Linked DNA regions of Homo sapiens. The protein of the gene in region 1 purifies or fractionates together with the protein of each later gene. This does not show direct contact. Each region holds a gene or a part of one and is shown on either strand. Other genes may lie near its edges. The genes, in order: RAD51C and CACNA2D3.

Region 1 (3,807 bases):
AAAAAAAAAAGGAAATTTATATTCAAGTTCTTATTCTTTCAATTACTTATAAATTAAATGGCTTATGGGTTGACTGTTTTCTTATTTATTTATTTATTTTAAGATGGAGTTGCGCTCTGTCACCCAGGCTGGAGTGCAGTGGCATGATCTCAGCTCACTGCAACCTCTGCCTGCTGGGTTCAAGCAATTCTCCTGCCTCAGCCTCCTGAGTAGCTGGGACTACGGGCATGTGCCACAATGCCCGGCTAATTTTTTGTTTTTTTAGCAGAGATGGAGTTTCACCATGCTGGCCAGGCTGGTCTCGAACTCCTGACCTTGTGATCTTCCCGCCTCGGCCTCCCAAAGTGCTGGGATTACAGGCATGAGCTACAGCGCCCGGCCTATTGTTTTCTTTTTCTTTGTTTTATTTATTTTTTGGATGTGCGGTCTTTATTCTTTCCAATAAAAGTTTTAAAAAAAATGCTTTTCATAAGATTTCCTTTAAATGAGTATATTTCCTTTAAATGAGTGTAGTCAGCTGGATTTTTTTTTTTCATGGAGGTACTAAGTGTCCCATTTCGCTGATGACCAGCATGGTTACTGAAAGCCCTTTGGACCCTAGCAGAATATGCCACCCTGAAATATGCCACTTTGGCATAAGGATTATTTTGAGCTGAAGGCAATTGAAAAGAAACAGATAAATCTGTCTGCCCTTCCTAAAAACAGGACATAAATGCACAGAAGAGTTCCATCTTCCCTCTCTTACAGGAAGACAAAAGTTAATCACCACAGACAACTTTAGACCATTATCAGCGTACATAACAAATTTTACTAGCTATCTTTTATCTCCAGTTAGTTTCAATATTTGCTGCCTTTAGAGACTTAGGGTCCTTTTCCTTTGTCTTGTTACTTCTCTAAAAATTTACTGTACCTTCGGGACGATAAGCTCAAATCTTTTTTTTTTGAGACAGAATCTGGCTCTACCGCCCGGGCTGGAGTGCAGTGGCGCAATCTTGGCTTACTGCGACCTTCACCTCCCAGGTTCAAGCGATTCTCCTGACTCAGCCTCCTGAGTAGCTGGGAGCTGCGAATACAGGCACGTGCCACCATACCTGGCTAATTTTTGTATTTTTAGTAGAGACAGAGTTTCATCATGTTGGCCAGACTGGTCTCAAACTTCTGACCTCAAGTGATCCTCCTACGTCGGCTTCCCTAAGTGCTGGGATTATGAGTGTGAACACCTGTGCCCAGCTCCAAATCTAACCAAACTTTTGAGTTACTAATCTCTGGACTCCCCTGTGTTGTTACATGCACTATGCACAATTAATAAACTCTTTCTCTTGTTAATCCATCTTTTGTCAGTCCGATTTACAGGGCTCCAGCCAAGAAACCTAAGAGGGTGGCAGGAAAAGGAGTTTTTCTTCCCTTATACCTTAAAGCTACCTATTTCACAATGTGTGTTTGTAATAGTGTCTTAAAACCTTACTGTAACTAGAGTAGGTGTAGCACTAGGATATAAAGTTTTTATTTTTATTTTAATTAATTAATTTATTTTTTAAGATGGGGTCTCAGTCCATCATCCAGGCTGGAGTGCAGTGGCGCGATCTGGGCTCACTGCAAGCTCTGCCTCCTGGGTTCACGCCATTCTCCTGCCTCAGCCTCCCAAGTAGCTGGGACTACAGGCACCCGCCACCACGCCTGGCTGACTTTGTATTTTTAGTAGAGATGGGGTTTCACCATGTTAGCCAGGATGGTCTCGATCTCCTGACCTCATGATCTGCCCACCTCAGCCTCCCAAAGCGCTGGGATTACAGGCGTGAGCCACCACACCTGGCCTAAAGTTTTTAAATGATTGATATGAGATTAAATTGTCATTGTTTTGGTGAAAATTTGACTCTGCTAAGTGTCTATTTGCAATAGGAAATGTTTTCTATTTTAAAATATAGCTTCTTGTTTTTTCAGTGTTAATATTTAAGTACATTTTATTTATTTTTAATATTTTACTTTTTGTGAAACAGGGTCTCACTTTGTCATCCAGGCCGGATTGCAGTGGCATGATCACAATTCACTGCAGCCTTGACCTCCCTGGGCTCAGGTGATCCTCTCACTTCAGCCCCCCAAGTAGCTGGGGCTACAGGTGGGCACTACCATGCCCAGCTAATTTTTTTTGCATTTTTTGTAGAGACGGAGTTTCACCATGTTGCCCAGGCTGGTCTTGAACTCACGGGCTCAAGAGATCTGCGTGCCTTGGCCTCCTAAAGTGTTAGAATTACAGGCGTGAGCCACCACGCCTGGCTAAGTGCATTTTAAAATGCAGTAACTGGCCGGGTGTGGTGACTCACTGCCTGTAATCCCAGCACTTCGGGAGGCAGAGGCAGGCAGATCACGAGGTCAGGAGATCGAGACCATCCTTGCTAACATGGTGAAACCCCGTCTCTACTAAAAATACAAAAAATTAGCCTGGCATGGTGGCGGGCGCCTGTAGTCCCGGCTGCTGGGGAGGCTGAGGCAGGAGAATGGCATGAACCCAGGAGGCAGAGCTTGCAGTGAGCTGAGATCACGGCACTGCACTCCAGCCTGGAGGACAGAGCAAGACTCCGTCTCAAAAAAATGAAAAAGAAAAAATGCAGTAACTGATTGGTTTCTCTCTGAAATATGTGCAAAATCAAACTTTTTTTTTTTTCTGAGACAGAGTCTTGCTCTGTCGCCCAGGCTGGAGTGCAGTGGCGGGATCTCAGCTCACTACAACCTCCGTCTCCCGGGTTCAAGCCAGTCTCCTGCCTCAGCCTCCCGAGTACCTGGGATTACAGGCATGCACCACCACACCAAGCTAATCTTTATATTTTTAGTCGAGATGTGTTTTACCATGTTGGCCAGGCTGGTCTTGAACTCCTGACCTAGTGATCCACCCAGCTTCCCAAAGTGCTGTGATTACAAGTGTGAGCCACCACGCCCAGCCTCAAACTGTTTGTTTTAAACATCCAATCTAAGAAAGATTTTATATAATTGTTGCCAGTTAAATATCAAATTATACTATAGCATTCAAGAGAAAAAATGCTTCATTTGAACATTTTTTCTAACTGTGTTTTATTTTTTTGTTTTTTTTTTTGAGACAGAGTTTTCATTCTGTCACCCAGGTTGGAGTACAGTGCCGCTATCATTGCTTACTGCAGCCTTGACCTCCCAGGCTCAAGCAATCCTCTCACCTTAACCTCCTGAGTAGCTACGACCAGAGTTGCACACCATCACACCTGACTAATTTCTGTATTTTTTGCAGAGATGGGGTTTTCCATGTTGCCCAGGCTGCCGTTAACTCTTAATTTGTAGTCCTATAGAAAAAAGCAAGAAAGAGAAACTTCCATTATGTTACTTCTGTTCAATGAAGCCAGTGACTAGAAATATGAAAAGGCAGGCATTAAAACACTAGTTGTATATGTTTATAAATAATTTTACATAGCCTAATATGTAAGGAAACAGTGGAAAAATGTGAAAATAATAGATCAGGTCGGGTGTGGTGGTTCATGCCTGTAATCCCAGGCGTGAATTTGGGAAGCTGAGGTGAGCAGATCACTTGAGGTCAGGAGTTCAAGACCGGCCTGGCCAACAAGGTGAAACCCCGTCTCTACTAAAAATACAAAAATTAGCTGGGCATGGTGGCGAGTGACTGTAATCCCAGCTACTCAAGAGGCTGAGGCAGGACAGTCGCTTGAGCCCAGGAGGCAGAGGTTGCAGTGTGCCAAGATCGCATCACTGCACTCCAGCCTGGGTGACAGAGTGAGACTTTATCTAAAAAAAAAAAAAAAAAATCAAGTGGCTGGGCACAGTGGT
Region 2 (4,464 bases), on another chromosome or scaffold:
GGCCTGGCTCCTAGCCGGACACCACCTGGCGGAAGCTGGAGCCCGCCCTTACTTCCCTGCAACCTGAGGATGCTGAGGCCAAGGGCGGGTGACGGGGCAGAAAGCAAAGCCCTGGTTGCAGAAAGGCATGCAAATATGAACCCAGGTGTCTGGTGCGCCGGGAGCCCCGGCGACGTTAGGAGCGCACTCCTTGCTGGGGTCACCGGAGTTGCGCTTGGCCGGGCAAGGATGACTCAGCCTCACTCCGGTCGGTCTTTACCGCCAGCCTGCGCGAGGGCTCCACAAAGTTCCCAATCACACCCCATACCTCGCACGGGGGAGAGGGGTTCTGCAAGCTGGGTCCCGGGGTGGGGGCAGCGGCGAGAGAGGCGGGGAGAAGCCTGGTTCCCAGAACGCGCAGGGGCTTCTCCGGCTTCCTTTCTCCTCGCCCCTGAGGGCGGCGAGAAGGCGCCTCCTCCGGCGCTCACTGCCTCCTGCCCAGTGCGGTGGGCGCCGGAGTGGGGAGCAGGCAATCCCCCAGGCTCGGAGAAATCTTTTATCCCGAAATCCAGGGTGTCCCCCGGTCAGGATCGACTCGGCGCCGCGTTGGCTTCCTCGCTCAACCCTGACATCCCGGTCCCCACCAGTCACCGCAGCCGGGCGGACTCCGAAGGCAGCGGCCGCTGGGGAGCCCCGGGGCCTGGGTCGGGCGCGCAGGGGGCCGCTGCGCTGCGGCCGGATGCCGGGAGCCCCGCGCTGGTGCGCCCAAGCCGTGGTGGCAGCACCGCCCTCCGTGCTTTCCCCTGTCGGGCGCCGCGGCCGGAGGAGCAGCTGCGGGCGGTCACGCAGCGCTGCCCTAGCCAGAGCCCCGAGCTCCCACCCAGTCCCATCCCCAGCCCGATCCGCCCCGCGTGCGATCCCGCCTGCCGCCGCGAGCCTGTGCTCCTTTCTGAGATTTCTGCTTCTTCCCCAGCTCCCTCCCCGCAGGAGAATCGCGCGGCGGGGGCGGAGGGCGCGCCCCCTTTAGGTTCCGCGGCCCCCGACCCCGCCCGGCCCAGGGGCGGAGCGGGCATGCTACGCCCTCTCCTAGCAGCCGCCCGCAAAGTGCGGAGCGCCGCGCCCTGCCCTCGGCTTCCCTCCCGCGCCCCCAACCCCCACCCTGGCTAGGGTCGCCCGGCCCGGGGCCAGCCCCAGAGTCGCGCCCGCGGTGGCGGACTGCGGAGTTGTAAAGAACTCAGCGGCCGCAGTAGCCCGGGTGGGGCAGGGCGCGCTCCGCCGCGGCCAAGGACACTGGAGTTTCCGAGTCCCCGCCCGCGCGGCGCCTCCTGCCCCGCCGCCCTCCCGCCGCGGCCCGCCGGACTCCCCGGGGCCGCCGAGGCGGGGCCGGGCGGCTGCTGCTGCTAGAGGCGCGTCTCGCTGCCTCCTCCCCCGCCCGCCTCCCTCCCCACCTCTCCTCCCTCCCTCCCCACCTCTCCTCCCTCCCTCTCCTCTCCGCCCTCCCCGCCCCCCCCACCCGCTCCTTTTTCTGCTCCCCAAGTGAGCCGGGCGCGCGAGAGGCAGGCGGGGCGGCGCGGAGCGGAGCAGGCAGCCCCGCGCGCTCGCCCACCGCCCGCTCCGCGCAGCTCCCCGCGGCCGCTCTCGTCGCCGCCGCAGCGGGCGCGTCGGAGGGAGCCCAGCATGGCCGGGCCGGGCTCGCCGCGCCGCGCGTCCCGGGGGGCCTCGGCGCTTCTCGCTGCCGCGCTTCTCTACGCCGCGCTGGGGGACGTGGTGCGCTCGGAGCAGCAGATACCGCTCTCCGTGTAAGTGCCGGCTCCTGCGCCGCCCGGGGAGGGGACCTTGCCGCCTGCGACCCACTGTGCCCAAGTTTGGGCGCCTGCAGGTGCGGCTGGGCAGGACCCGCCGCGGGCGTCGGCCTCGCCGCTCGCACCTGCCTTTCGGGACCCGCGTCGGGCGGCGAGGCCGGGGTGGGATGCTCTGGCCCCTGCCCGCAGGTTGCCGAGTGAGATCTGGAGAGGCTCACCTCAAGTGACGGCACCAACTTTGGAGCCTGGTTACCGAATCCAACTTCCATGGGCCGCTGAATTTCCCCCCTCTTTGCTCTACTGCCGCCCCACTTCTTTTTTTGGGGGGGGGATGGGTGGATTTCTTCTGACTGCTATTTGCCAGGTGATGCCCAGTTTGGGGGGTCGAGTCCTCGGGCAGTGGTTCGAATGAAACTCAGTGGTCTTTTTAGAGAGCCTGGGAGACTTTGCGCATTCTTAACTCCGCGACCCCCCTCGGGCCCCCTCCCGCGCTGCGCTTTGCAGTTTTGGTGCTGGCAGTTTCTACCAAGCCGCTTTTTCTATCTTTTCTTCTTTTAAAACATGTTACATCGCACTGCTCCTTCAGCCATAGTCCCATGTGTGCGTGTGCGTGTGCGTGCGTGTTGACTGTGACACGGGTGTTACATATCTTCCTGTGCCCCTTCTCCCTGTAGGGTGAAGCTCTGGGCCTCGGCTTTTGGTGGGGAGATAAAATCCATTGCTGCTAAGTACTCCGGTTCCCAGCTTCTGCAAAAGGTAAGGTTTCTGTGGTGGCAGGAAGCGATGATTTTTCCGGCACAGAAAATGGAGGCAGATTTAGTTTTCCAAACAAACGTGAGCCCCGAGCAGCATCAGTTATCGGAGGACTCTCTGATCCCCGGGTTTCTTGGCATTGTACTATGCAGTGACTTCTTCCTACCAACCGGTTATTTTTAGATGACACTTGATTCTAACCACAAAGAAAAGCAGGATACTCACTCGCACTGTCCTGGCTGGGGCTCGGAAACTGAGTGTTTTTGCATGGCTCTCGTCTCCGTGTCGGTATTGCTGTTTCAGTGCCAGAGCAGATGCTCCTCGGGCCAAAAAATGCTAACTTCATCCAAGGGGCAGACTCAGTGCCTATTTTGTGATGCCTTTCACCTTGCGTTGGAGGCGTGGGGTTCAGTGTATCAGAGAAAGACGCTGCACTATTGTTTGTCATCCCTGCAGTTGTACAATCCCATTATTCCCCAATCATCTAGACCCAGGGCTAGGATGCATTACATCATTGCAGATAAGGAGAATGAATGTGGTTATCTTTCCACTCAGCTGCACTGCCGGGTAATAACCTATGAGAGTAGTCCACAAACTTAAGAAATGGGTCTGCATCCATGTAATTCTGGAGAGTAATGAGAATGGAGAATTGATTATTAGGTTCTTATCACAAGCTGCATCAATTTTAATTCAAATAGGCAGCATTTTAAGCATAAGCTTAAAATTACATTGTGAGATAAATGGTCCTTCGTTCTCCCCTTCAGGAAATAAAGAAAAAAAAATGGGTCTGGGAGGAGAGATTAGAGGGGTTCAAAGAATTTCAAGTTAGCAGATCAACAGGATTAATCAAAGTATTCTCTTGATGATAGAAAATAAAATTGGCCTTTAGGGAATAATTCTCTGAAAATGGGTACAAACAGCTTAAATTGTTAAGTTAACTTTTAAACATTTTAAAATATGATTTTTGGGCCAATGTACCATATGTGTTATGCATGCTGCCTGGTAACCAAGTACGTATTTTATTTATGGCATTCCCCTTCAGAGAGTAGCATTTTTGGGGACAGTATATGAAACAGTTTGCCACATGAAATCCAAATATCGTAATAAAGCGTTGGCCCACCATGGAATGACAAAAGTTATTATGGTTTAAAAATCGCCAATAGCCTTATTCATTGAAACCTTATTCATTGAAAGATTGCTTGCTCAACTCTGTTGTTTGGGAAGGTGTTCTTGAATTATAGGCAGTTGGTAAACAGTTGAGGCTACGAAATGCCCTCGTGGAAGATGAGAATTTACATACCTGTGGCCCACCTCGGCACTTAAAGGAATTGCATAGGAATTGCCTCTTTCCCTAGTATTCTTTTAATCTGGACCAATCTGTCTCCTGCTTTGGCATTTTGCCCACTTGTCAGATGTTTGATGTGATGAATTCTGGACTGTAGCATTGCCTTTATATTTTTCTTATGCTTTTAAAGAAGATAACATTTTGTATAACTTTAAAGAAGTATTTCTCATCTGCACGTTGTAGTTGTAGCAACTCTAAAAGAATCCCTTCAGAGCCTGTTAATATTTTTTGGTTGTGCTTTCATATCTTTTATCCCACATTTTCTAGGAACACATTAAATATGTTTTTTTCTTTCTCTTTGAAGTTACACACACACACACACACACACACACACACACTGCACAAAACTCCGTCAACCTTATTATTTGCTACTCTATAACAGCAAATTGGAAAAGGCTGAAATGCTTCTCTTACCTTCTCATCAGCATCCTTTCTGATATTGAATTCACTAGCTTTGCTTTGCTTTTGTCATGTTTGCAGCTTGACAATTGTGTAATTATTTCCAGCTGTTTATGGCTTTGTTATCATTTCTTGCTGCTGCCTGGCATTTTGTAATCTGATGCGAGGGAAAGGTGAGGTGTTGCT

What was found.
Region 2: the proteins of RAD51C (region 1) and CACNA2D3 purify together in Homo sapiens (co-immunoprecipitation; one large-scale study listed by IntAct). This does not show direct contact.

What each region holds. Positions count from the first base shown.
Region 1 is NC_000017.11:58,698,925-58,702,731, forward strand, and holds part of RAD51C (DNA repair protein RAD51 homolog 3), read left to right. Parts: intron 1-3,807. UniProt on the Homo sapiens protein: Essential for the homologous recombination (HR) pathway of DNA repair. Involved in the homologous recombination repair (HRR) pathway of double-stranded DNA breaks arising during DNA replication or induced by DNA-damaging agents.
Region 2 is NC_000003.12:54,121,058-54,125,521, forward strand, and holds the start of CACNA2D3 (voltage-dependent calcium channel subunit alpha-2/delta-3 precursor), read left to right. Parts: upstream 1-1,494; 5' UTR 1,495-1,656; coding exon 1,657-1,778; intron 1,779-1,999; exon of another isoform or gene 2,000-2,385; intron 2,386-2,455; coding exon 2,456-2,537; intron 2,538-4,464. UniProt on the Homo sapiens protein: The alpha-2/delta subunit of voltage-dependent calcium channels regulates calcium current density and activation/inactivation kinetics of the calcium channel.